Homo sapiens: one gene and its partners. The protein of the gene in region 3 purifies or fractionates together with the protein of the main gene of each other region. This does not show direct contact. Each region holds a gene or a part of one and is shown on either strand. Other genes may lie near its edges. The genes, in order: RAB35, PCDH1 and ITGA5.

Region 1 (3,645 bases), about 66 Mb from region 3:
GGTAGGCACCTCCCTTCCTGCTACTCTTGGCTCATCTGTGCAGGTGGCAGGAAAAGCATGGAAGCCACACAAGCATCCAGGGATGGCTGGGGAGAGGGCGCCCAGCAAAGCCATCACCCCAAACATGCAGAGCCCAGGGCCAGCCAGGAAGGCCAGAAGGAAGGGGAGGCCCAACTCTCCTCTCCAGACCCCATGTCCCCATTCATCCCAGTGGCACAGGACGACATCAATCCCCGGAGGAGGAGGGGGACCACAGCCTCCGCTTCCCCGAGAGCTGTCGAAGAGCCGGAGGCCAGGCGGCAGCCCCGCCCCACACTGTGCAATCAGCCAGAGCTGTCCCTCTGTCCCCTCTCCCCAAAGCCGCAGGGACCTCCACCCCAGGGCTCCTCAGGACAGCACACAGACAAACCATGAGTGGACAGGCCGCTTCCTCCCGGCTTTCTGGCTGCCACCTGCCCCAGCCCTAATTACCTCCACCCCCATGAGGTTCATGGGGACAGCCCAAGCCCCAGTTCAGGAACAGCCCAAGTCAGCGCAGGCTGAGCAAGAATGGGGCAGCCAGGCTGACTTGTGGCTGCAGCTCCATTCCTGTCCACCTGCCCATCAGCTCTCTGGCCAATGCTTCACATCTGAGGCCCGATCTAAGGACAAAGACCAACCCTGGCTCCATCTCTGAAAGGCTGGCCCTTGGGAAGGTGCCTGCATTCACCCTGCCACACCTTGCAGCTTCAACAGTTATAGCACACAGGTGGCTAGTCCTTAACTGGGGTGGTCATGAGGAAGAAAGGAGCTAAGCATTACCCCAAGGCGGGGGAGCAGTAAACAGTCAGTATGCGTTCTTCAGCATCATCAATGTGCCTTCAAGGACAATCTGTGGTCCCAGACAGAGGTGGTGGAAGGAAACCAACAGGCAGCTTAGGGGCAGCCCTGAGCATCTTCCCTGATGCTGCAGAGCCAGAGCTCCTGCCCAGCCCTGGGACAAAGCCCAACCTGCCCCTGCCACCGCCCCTGCCCCATCCTTGCTCCATCCTCAACACGACCGCTGGGATCTCTTCCCAGGGCTTCATTCTGCCCACAGCTTTGCTTCCAGGGCAGCGTCGCTCCTTGGCTTCGGGGTAGCTGTGACGATCAAGCTCTCTTGGCACTGGGCCCAAGAACTAGCTCTGGCCTTGGCAGCTGCTGCTGAGAGCGCCGGGTCAGCACATGGCATGGTGTGTCAGACGCCTTCCAGAGCGAGGGCGCGCCGGAGCCACAGGAACAGGCGACTGTCCCCTGCCAGCAGAGGAAGCCCAAGGAGCGGATGGCTCTGCAGACTCTCCTTTGCTGAAGATGATCAGAGATGCCAAGAAACGCCTGCAGCCATGGCCCCGGCGCACAGCCCCCGCGGCTCCCTGGGCGCCTCTGCCTCATCCGGGGCCCAGGAAAGGGGCTTTATCTGAGAGCAGAGAATTTGTCTGGGGATGAAGTCAGGGGCTCAGAGCTCTGGCTAGGAGGAACCGGAGCACCGACGTTTCCCATGGCCACCAGGAATCACCTTCACTCACAGGGACTCTGCTCTAGGCCAGGCACAGAGCTGGGGGCTTGGTATCCATTACCTTATTAATGTCTGCAGCCACCTGATCCAGCAGACCTCAGGATGGCCATGTGACCAGCAAGGACGTGAGGCTGAGTGCAGCGGCCAGCTGGAAGTCCTGGCGCCCAGGGCTGACTCCCAGGCCCAACGCCAGGGCCTTGCCTTCCTTGTCACTTCTCCCCTCACCTCCATCCCACCCGCACCTCTCAGGGCCGGCAAACCTCAGCTTCTGAGAGCAAGAACCCGAGAAGGGGTGACCACAAGGCTTTTTCTCGCCAGGCTAACAGGATGCAGTTTCAGTTTCTCTCTGAACGCCCTGCATCGGAAAAAAGTCACGCTACTGCATCCTGACTGCCCTATTCCTGAAAACTCCTCACCTCCCCAAAACTCCTTCCTTCTTTGCCAGTGACCATCAAAGGGCGTCGAGACTTCCAGTGGCCCCTCAGGGCGCCCTGCTGGGCCTCCTGCCTCATGAGGGCCAGAGCGGGACTCTAAGATGGAGCCACCTGTCTGCTTCCCCAGACACGTGGGACGGCAGCAGGGGCCCAGCCGCTGCCCACAGGCCGCCCCTTCCCAAGCCCCTGGGGAAAAACCCATGTTGCTCCCAGGAAGCTGAGTGACTCCTCCCCGCCTCCCCACGGAATGGAGGAACCAGTTCACCTTCTTCCCGCTCTGCCCAGCCCAGAAAGCAGCTGACTGCATGATGGCAGGGAGGGGCTGTGGCTCCTCCTGCTGAAAGAGCCTCGGACCCCCCAGGCCCCACTGCCCTGCCCAGGAGTTCATTCCTCATGGCCACGGGCCTCTGAACCTCTGCCACCCTGAACCTCCGCCTGGTTTTAAGGCACAGGACGGGGCAGGAAGGCAGGGGCGCCACCTGCCCAGTCGATGCAGGGCCTCGGCAGACTCAGGGCCAACCCTGAGTGCCCCCAACCTCTGCCCCACTGAGTTAGGAGGCTTCATCCTCCCTGGGCCTGTTTTCCTGTCCATAAAATGGAGATAGTCACAGGTCTCTCTACCGGGATTAACCAAAATAAAGCAGCTGAAATCCTAGCGACAGGACCAACCCAGAGCAAGGATTCATGAGGTCAGCGCCCAGACCAGCCAACGGCATGAGGGCTTGCCTCGCCTGGGCCTGCAGCCCCAGGCTGCCCAAAGCACTGATGCCAGCCCTGCCCCAGTGTCCTCCGCAGATTCTCACTGGCAGCTGCCAAGACATGCAGGCCACAGAGCCCTCGCTCACAGGGCTCATCAACGGTCACCACACAGCACCACACCAGGGCGACCCCGGGACTGGGAGCTCCCAGGGATTCCGGGCATCACGGGCCACAGCACAAATGTGCTCAGCATAGGGTGAACCCAGTGACAAGCCCTCCGCCTTGGCTCCAGCCCCAGGAGCTGCTCGCCCAGCACACCTGTCCCTCTCCAGCAGCCCTGCTCTCCCCCATACTCCCAGCCATCCATGGGGGCGCTGCACCCCACACTTCCCACCCTCGGGAGATGCCGAGGGGCCCGGGGGCAGGGGCAGCCAGCCTGGGGAGTGCCGGGCTTTCATGCTGTGGGAAGGAAGGGGGCCGCTGGCTGGGACTTCCTCATTCGCCTTCCTGAGGTCACTTCCAGAGGAGCTGCTCGAGAGAGCCAAGGAGGTGCCCGTGGAGCCAGACAGCCGCCCCTCACTCTGCACAGGCCACTGTGTGGAGCACAGGCTTGGCCGCTGGGAGGGACCCCTCCAGGGCGCCCTCTGTCAAATGGGATGACAGCAGCACCAAGCACACAGAGCTGCCAGACACCACACCCCGGCACGCACGTTGACGCCTGCAGCAGAGCACCTGGCACCCTCCACATGGAAGCCAATCCCAGAGGCAGGCCCTCCAGGAAACGAGCGCAGAGAGCTTCGGCAACTTGCCTAAGGACACACAGCCCAACAGCTCCAAATCGGCCCCTTCAGACCCTGCTCTTTCCTAAAACCTGCTCCACTAACAACCCAATAACCAGGAGCCGCTCCGAAGGACACTGCCCATCTGCGCAGGAGCCCAGCTTCCCCCCGGCCTGCAGCTCAGCCACAAAGGTGGGCA
Region 2 (3,645 bases), on a different chromosome or scaffold from region 3:
CTGCTCTTGGTCCGGCGGCTGGGAGATGACTGGCCAGGCATCCAGCATGTGTCAGAGTGGCCAAACTCACTGCACTCCCGGGTACATGTGCCTGTCATGGCGACATCAGGCAAAGGGCGAAGGTCTGTAGGAGGGAGCGGGGAAGGACAATTGTCAGACATACAGCCTCTGCAAAGCTCTGCTTCATGGCCTCCCACTGGCATCTACACCCCACCTCAGGACAGGAGTATGCGCCCCTTCCTGACCGCTGAACTCACAGGCACACACACCCTCAAAGAGACACATGCCCTCCCACCATCGACCTACTGGCCTACTGTACACACGCACACGCACACACACATAATCTATCTTTTTTCTTTTTCTTTTTCTTTGTTTTGAGATGGAGTCTTGCTCTTGTCACCCAGGCTGGAGTGCAATGGCGCAATCTCGGCTTACTGCAACCTCCACCTCCCGGGTTCAAGCAATTCTTTTGCCTCAGCCTCCCGAGTAGCTGGGATTACAGGCGCCCACCACCATATCTGGTTAATTTTTGGATTTTTAGTAGAGATGGGGTTTCACCAGGTTGACCAGGCTGGTCTTGAACTCCTGACCTCAGGTGATCCACCCACCTTGACCTCCCAAAGTGTTGGGATTACAAGCATGAGCCACCGCACCCAGCCTTATCCTTTTTTTTTTCAAGACAGGGTCTCACTCCTGTCACCCAGGCTGGAGTGCAGTGGTGTGATCTTGGCTCACTGCAGCCTCAATTTCCCAGGCTCAGGCAATCCTCCCACCTCAGACTCCCAAATATCTGTGACTATAGGCATGCACTACCATGCCTGGCTAATTTTTTATATTTTTTTGTAGAGATGGGGTTTAAGCCATGTTGCCCAGGCTGGTCTTGAACTCCTGAGTTCAAGCAATCCGCCTGCCTCAGCCTCCCAGAGTGTTGGAATTACAGGCATGAGCCACCAAGCCCTAAATAGACACATTCCTTCCAGCGTCACCTACCCCCCAGTGCTCTTCTTACACACCCACCAAATCTGCCCTCAGACAGGTGCACAAACACACACTCATCTACACACTGCCTCATCTATCTCCAGACAGACTTAAATGTGCAAATCTATCCTCAGGTGGGGTTGAGGAAACCTCCATCCTCATTGAATTGATTGACACAATCAACTCTCTCTCTCTCTCCCTCTCACACACACAGATAGGCATGGATACACAAATCTACTACAGTGGGCACCTCTATCCTCAGATGAAATTGGGTACATTGCTTCCTTCAGAACCCCCTCAAGCTTCACATGCTCCCGGTGGTCCTGAACCCACCCTCCTCCTGCAAGACCTTGCTTTAAAGCCAGGGGGAAGGGACGAGCTTCTGTGTGGGGTATTCACATAGAGGCACACACTCACATCCACAAGCACGCTCATGCAGCCCCTCCCCACCTCACTCTGGCCCCTAAACCAGCCACCACCCCTGGCCTTGCCCCAGCTCCCTGCCCAGAACACCCACGGGAACAGGAGTTGGCTGCCTGACATCAGCAGTAGCCGGTGTAGTTGCTGGGCAGCGGGGGTCTCCATGGGAACGGCTGGGCCATGAGTACTTCCTGTCACAGCTGTCCCTGTCCTGCCCTTGCTCAGGGACAGCACCAGGCAGTGACCCCCCCCCACCCCCAAGGGACATGGCTAAGCAACACTGCCTGGGACAGGGGCTCCCCTGGCACCACCCACTATGGCTTGGCCTCCTGCCAGTGCCAGGTGAGGAGGGGACAGCTCTGTTGTTAACCCTCAAAGTGCCAAGGCTCTACAGCTCAGAGCAGAGTTGGGGGACGCAACATGGCTCAGAGCAGAGCATGGGCACTGGGTGGGTGAGGCTGGGTGCTGGGCAGAGTCCCACAGACCCCAGACCCCAGAGCAGTTCCCACATACCTGGCACTCTGCCTCAGGGCCTGCTCCGGCCAGCCGGCTCTGCGCGGGCACAAAAAGGATGAGACGGGCATGAGATCGCGCATGGAGGGGCGGGGTGGGGGTGGAGGGCACTCTGAGACCTAGGGCCTGGGAGGTTAGACAAGGGCCCGGGAGGTTAGACAAGGGCCCTGTGCCTGAGGCAGGGGAGTGAAACCTCCCATCTTTTGTGGAGCGAGGAGGCTTTGAGTTGAGGGAGTGGGTGGGACCCGAGGACAACTCCAACTTAGAGAGTCTTTCCATCTCAGGGGTTAGCTCGTTCACTCTCCCCCTCCACAGGCTGCCATGGACGACTTCACACATGCACACGCACTGCACACACACTGACGGCACACCTCACCATCCATTCCCATGCCGACCTCTGCGCTGGCTCACACCTCCTTTTTGCCATCACCCTCCAAATCCCTCCCAGACAGGCCTTTCTCTTCACCAGACCTCCTACCGCGCTCTTCCTCAAAGAGGTGCCAAACCTTCTCCCACTCCTCACCCCAGCATATCGTCACTCCATTCTCTGAGCCCCCTGTAGCATCCAGGGCCCAATCTCTATTCTCAAGGCCTTCCCAACCTTAGAGGACCACCACCCACCTTCTCAAGGTTTCCTCACCATTACGTGAGCTTTCTGGCCACCACACTCAGGGTCCCTGTTCCCAGGTGGCCGTGTAAACATGGTGCCGAATGCAACAGCTTTGGAGTCAGAGAAACCTGGGTTTGAATCCCTCCCAGGTCTGTCACGTTCTAGATGTATGACTTTGGGCAAGTGACTTAACCTCTCTAAGCCTCAGTTTCCTCCACTGTAAAGTGGGTGCCATAAAGTTCTCAAATCACAGAGTGGTTCTGGGGATTAAATGCGTGTATACCTGAAAGCCCTCAGCACGGTGATGATGACTGAGCACATAATAACTCAATACATAGATGATTTGTTTAAGGCCTTGTCACCATTCCCAGGCTTCCACTCATTCCTGGGGTGCCCTGACCATGGTGCTGCGCCTCACCATTCTCGGGGTGCTCCATCTCTCCTATGCTGCCATCAGGGGTGGTGCGCTCATAGTGATCCTCAGGCAGGGCCAGGGGACCGAGTCGAGGCCCTGAGGATGACTTGCTGGACGGCGTCTCAGACTCCTCCAGGCCACTGTCATAGTAACTGTGCTGGGATGGGTCCTGCAGCTCCTGGGCCTGGCTGGTGGCCGAGAAGGTGACGCGGCGGTGAGGTAACTGCAGGGAGACAGATTGTCACTACTGACCAGCCAGCTTGCCCACAGGGCCCACCACCATACCAGGCCCTAGTACAAGCCAAGCACCATCCTACTCAGGCTTCAACAGCAACCAAGAAGAGACCCAGGCCCCAGCACAGCACATTCCTCCCGAAAGCACAGGCCCCAGTGAAAGACAGCTCCTGAGTTCTAGGACCGCTCCTAGTACAGCCAAGTCCACATACTGGAAGTCCCAATACAGCGCAGGCCCCAGTGTTATTATAGCCCCTATGCTACCCCAATAACCCTCATCCAGTGCAACCGCTTGTTATAGCACAACCCTTCTAGTTCTAACCCAGCTTCCCAATATTGGCACAGCCTCCCTTTAATCCCAGAATGACCTGTAATACGGTGTAGAGCCCAATACCAGAGTAACATAATACCACCCGACTCCCCTAATTCCAGCTCAGCCTCTAAACACCAGCATAGCCTGCAGTTTCTAGAACAG
Region 3 (3,645 bases):
TTTCCCATAGACCACCCCCAGCTGACTGAATTCAGAGTCTGCTCTACCGGGGTCCCAGTTCTGGACACAGTGCTTCTGTTCCCCCTGATATGAGGGGAAGTTTGCCCTGTGTAATGGGGTGGTCATAGCTAAGGGCCTGGGCAGTCCTCCTGCCGTCAGCTCTGCCTCATTCATCCCTAGGTCTCTTGCCTCCAAGACCTCCACACCGCTCTTGGCTCTCTTGGTTTCCCCTAAGGGTCTCCTGCCAGGACTTGTATCTGGCAGCCTGGGCAACTCGACCCAGCCTCTGGACCAGTGCTCCTGCCAGCCTTGGCCTCTGCTCTGCTCTGTGTCTGCCTCTGGCACTGCTTCTCAATCCCTCTGTCCCTCTGCCCCTATGACTGCTTGCTCTCTTGGTTTTGGTTTTTGAATCCTATCTCTCTATCTCAGATTTTACATTTCTCCATCTCTATTGGTTTCTGTTCACTTTCAGCTTTCAACCCGTCCAATACCTACCCTTTCCCTGATATTTGAATACCTTCCTCAGCTTTCTCACTAGGCAAGAAGGCCCAAAGTGAAGGATTATGGTAGAGGTCACAAGAGCTGGGGGTATTTTCCAAGAAGACCAGGTATACTGAGGCGGGGAGGAGTGGCCCAGGAGGTATAGGGGATGGAAGCAGCAGAGAGGACAGGTCCGAGGGGACGGAAGAGGAGAGTGAGGAGGGGTCTGTGAGGGCCAGTGGTGAGAATGGAGGGGAGAGAAGGCAGGGTCCAGAGGAATAGGAGATGGGTAGGCTGAAGAGGGAGAGCTCCTGAAGTTAGGAGGGGTGGGGAGGGGAGGTGCCAGTCTCCGTTACTCTGGGGACAGGAAATGTTTACTGCCTGTGGCTTCCTGTCTGTTTCCAACCTCTCACTTCTCCGTTTGTCTCCCACACCCCCACCTCCGTGCCAGGCCCCACCCTTCTCACTTAGGCATGACATCCACTTGTGGGGTCTGGCTGCACCGCCCTAGGGCTGGGTGATGTGAGAGAAGGAGACCCCTCTCTCAGCAGGGGCAGCCCCCAGAGAACTTGGTTGCTGCCTTCAGGCTCTAGAAAGCAGAAAGGGCCACCAACCTGAACTAGACCAGAACAGCAGAGGTACAGGAAGCAGTGAAAGGAGCACTGGACCAGGAGCCAAGAGTTCTGGTTCAGGCACTAACTGTGGACTTGGGCAATACCCTCTCCCTCTTCCTCTGGGTGAAGAAGAGGTTCTCTCAAAGTTTCCTGGAGCACAGGGCTAAGGCCAAGGGACCCTATTCCTGCTGCCAATTTCTCCAACACCCACTGCTCTTGGAGAGGAGCTGAGCCTGACACTCCTGGGGTGGCCTGAGGAAGTAGCCTGGAGTTTAGCAGGGTTGCAAGACAGAGAGTTTACAAAGCTTGTAAAGCCCACAAGCCAGGGGCATATCCATTCCGGCTGTGCGATGGTTCAGGATACCTGGCATGCAGGCAAGGGACACAGACCTAGGCCTCCTTTCCTCCCGGCACACTACCCATGGCTTATTCCTGGACAGGCAGTGGCCCTTCCATCCCAGCAACCTAAAGTCAATCCAATAAATAGTGCCTCCCCTGCCAACACGCCAAGTGAGGTGACTGGTGCCATGGATGGCATGCAAGCTAGTTTGTCCTTATTTTCCCACATCTTTTTCCTGCTTCCTAAATCCTGCAGCAGTTGGGCACTTTTAGGGGTCTAAGAAGGTAACAATGGAGGGTCCGTGTGCTATTTTCAATATTTCAGAAAGCCTAACGGAAATCATGCATTTACCAGATAAGGTGGCCTAGGCTAATTAAAACCTCAAGTGTATTTGCTTTTGGCTGGAATTATATCAACTTATGTGGGAACCTGGTTATCTCATGCTGGTCAGAAACTCTGATTGGCAGCTATAGATGTTTTTGGTTAATAAAAAATGAGAAAAGCGCCAGGTGCGGTGGCTCACGCCTGTAATCCCAGCACTTTGGGAGGCCGAGACGGGCAGATCACGAGGTCAGGAGATCGAGACCATCCTGGCTAACATGGTGAAACTCCGTCTCTACTAAAAATACAAAAAAATTATCCGGGCGTGGTGGCGGGCGCTTGTAGTCCCACCTACTAGGGAGGCTGAGGCAGGAGAATGGCATGAACCTGGGAGGCGGAGCTTGCAGGGAGCCGAGATCACGCCACTACACTCCAGTCCAGAGACAGAGCGAGACTCCTTCTCAACAACAACAACAACAACAACGGCCAGGCGTGGTGGCTCACGCTTGTAATCCCAGCACTTTGGGAGGCTGAGACAGGCAGATCACCTGAGGTCGGGAGTTTGAGACCAGCTTGACCAACATGGCGAAACCCCGTCTCTACTAAAAATACAAAATTAGCTGGGCGTGGTGGCACATGCCTGTAATTCCAGCTACTCAGGAGGCTGAGGCAGGAGAATCGCTTGAACCAGGGAGGTGGGGGTTGCGGTGAGCCGAGATTGCGCCATTGCATCCCAGACTGGGCAACAAGAGCGAAACTCCGTCTCAAAAAAATAAAAAATAAAAATAAAAAGAATGAGAAAAGGAATTCATTATTTCTTACTAAATGCAGGTTGGCAGGTACACTTTTCTGAAATAGAGTCTGAGAGAAGAAATAACTGCCAGAATTTATTCTGAAGCCTCAGAAATGGAAGGGTTGGTCCTTGGAGACACAGACTACCACAGCTAGAAGGCACTGTAGAGAGCATCCACTGGTTTTAAGACTTCACTGTAGGTGCCTGAGGCCACATGGCATAAAGGCAGACTGGCCTCGTTCTGACACTCCCTAAGAAAAAGTTCAAAGCTGCTCACCTCGTCCCATGTTCTCATTCTGCAGATGGGAAAACTATCTCAGAGGAGTTAAGTAATGGGCTTAGGTCACTCATAATCCCTCCCAGAATATGAAGCAGAAATCAGGAATCCTGATTTCTACGACAGCATTCTAGTCTACCCCATTGCCAACTTATTCCCTCCTCTCATATCTGCTATCTCCCCAGCTTTTGATTAACCAAGTCCCAGTTCAATACTGGGTTACTGTTTGACTCTGTTGGCCTGACAAGGTCAGGGGTGGAGAGCAGCAAGTGGACCAGCGCCCAGCTCCTACAGGTCCTACAGCAGCATGGGCCAGGCCAGAGGAGGACACCTGGTTTGGGGTCCCCTAGTGCATTCACAAGGGATATGTATGATTGGCTGGGGAAGAACAGCTGTCTCCACTTGTGGCAGTTGCAGAAGGGAACAAGGAGCTGAGCTGAGACTGGCCTGCCTCTCAAGCTTTCAAGTGTCCTGGGCCAAGTCACTGCCTCTCTTCAAGCTTTGGATTCTCTGGCATAAAATGATGGATTTCCCTTGAATGTTTCCTAAACTAACTTCTGGTTCAAAATTTCTATGACTCCTGAAGCCTCAGTTGTTTTTATTTTTTGTTTGTTTGTTGTTGTTTTTTTGAGATGGAGTCTCACTCTGTCGCCCAGTCTGGGGTCGCTCAGTACAGATGTGATCTCAGCTCACTGCAATCTCTGCCTCCCAGGTTCAAGGGATTCTCCTGCCTCAGTTTCCCGAGTAGCTGGGATTACAGGTGCGTGCCAGCACGCTCGGCTAATTTTTTTATTTTTAGTAGAGATGGGGTTTCACCATG

Evidence for each region.
Region 1: the proteins of ITGA5 (region 3) and RAB35 purify together in Homo sapiens (affinity purification with mass spectrometry; one large-scale study listed by BioGRID and IntAct). This does not show direct contact.
Region 2: the proteins of ITGA5 (region 3) and PCDH1 purify together in Homo sapiens (affinity purification with mass spectrometry; one large-scale study listed by BioGRID and IntAct). This does not show direct contact.

Annotation. Positions count from the first base shown.
Region 1 is NC_000012.12:120,099,638-120,103,282, forward strand, and holds part of RAB35 (ras-related protein Rab-35), read right to left. Parts: intron 1-3,645. UniProt on the Homo sapiens protein: The small GTPases Rab are key regulators of intracellular membrane trafficking, from the formation of transport vesicles to their fusion with membranes.
Region 2 is NC_000005.10:141,854,313-141,857,957, forward strand, and holds part of PCDH1 (protocadherin-1 isoform 2 precursor), read right to left. Parts: intron 3,160-3,645; coding exon 2,940-3,159; intron 1,951-2,939; coding exon of another isoform or gene 1,925-1,950; exon of another isoform or gene 1,912-1,924; intron 125-1,911; coding exon 1-124. UniProt on the Homo sapiens protein: May be involved in cell-cell interaction processes and in cell adhesion.
Region 3 is NC_000012.12:54,412,628-54,416,272, forward strand, and holds part of ITGA5 (integrin alpha-5 precursor), read right to left. Parts: intron 1-3,645.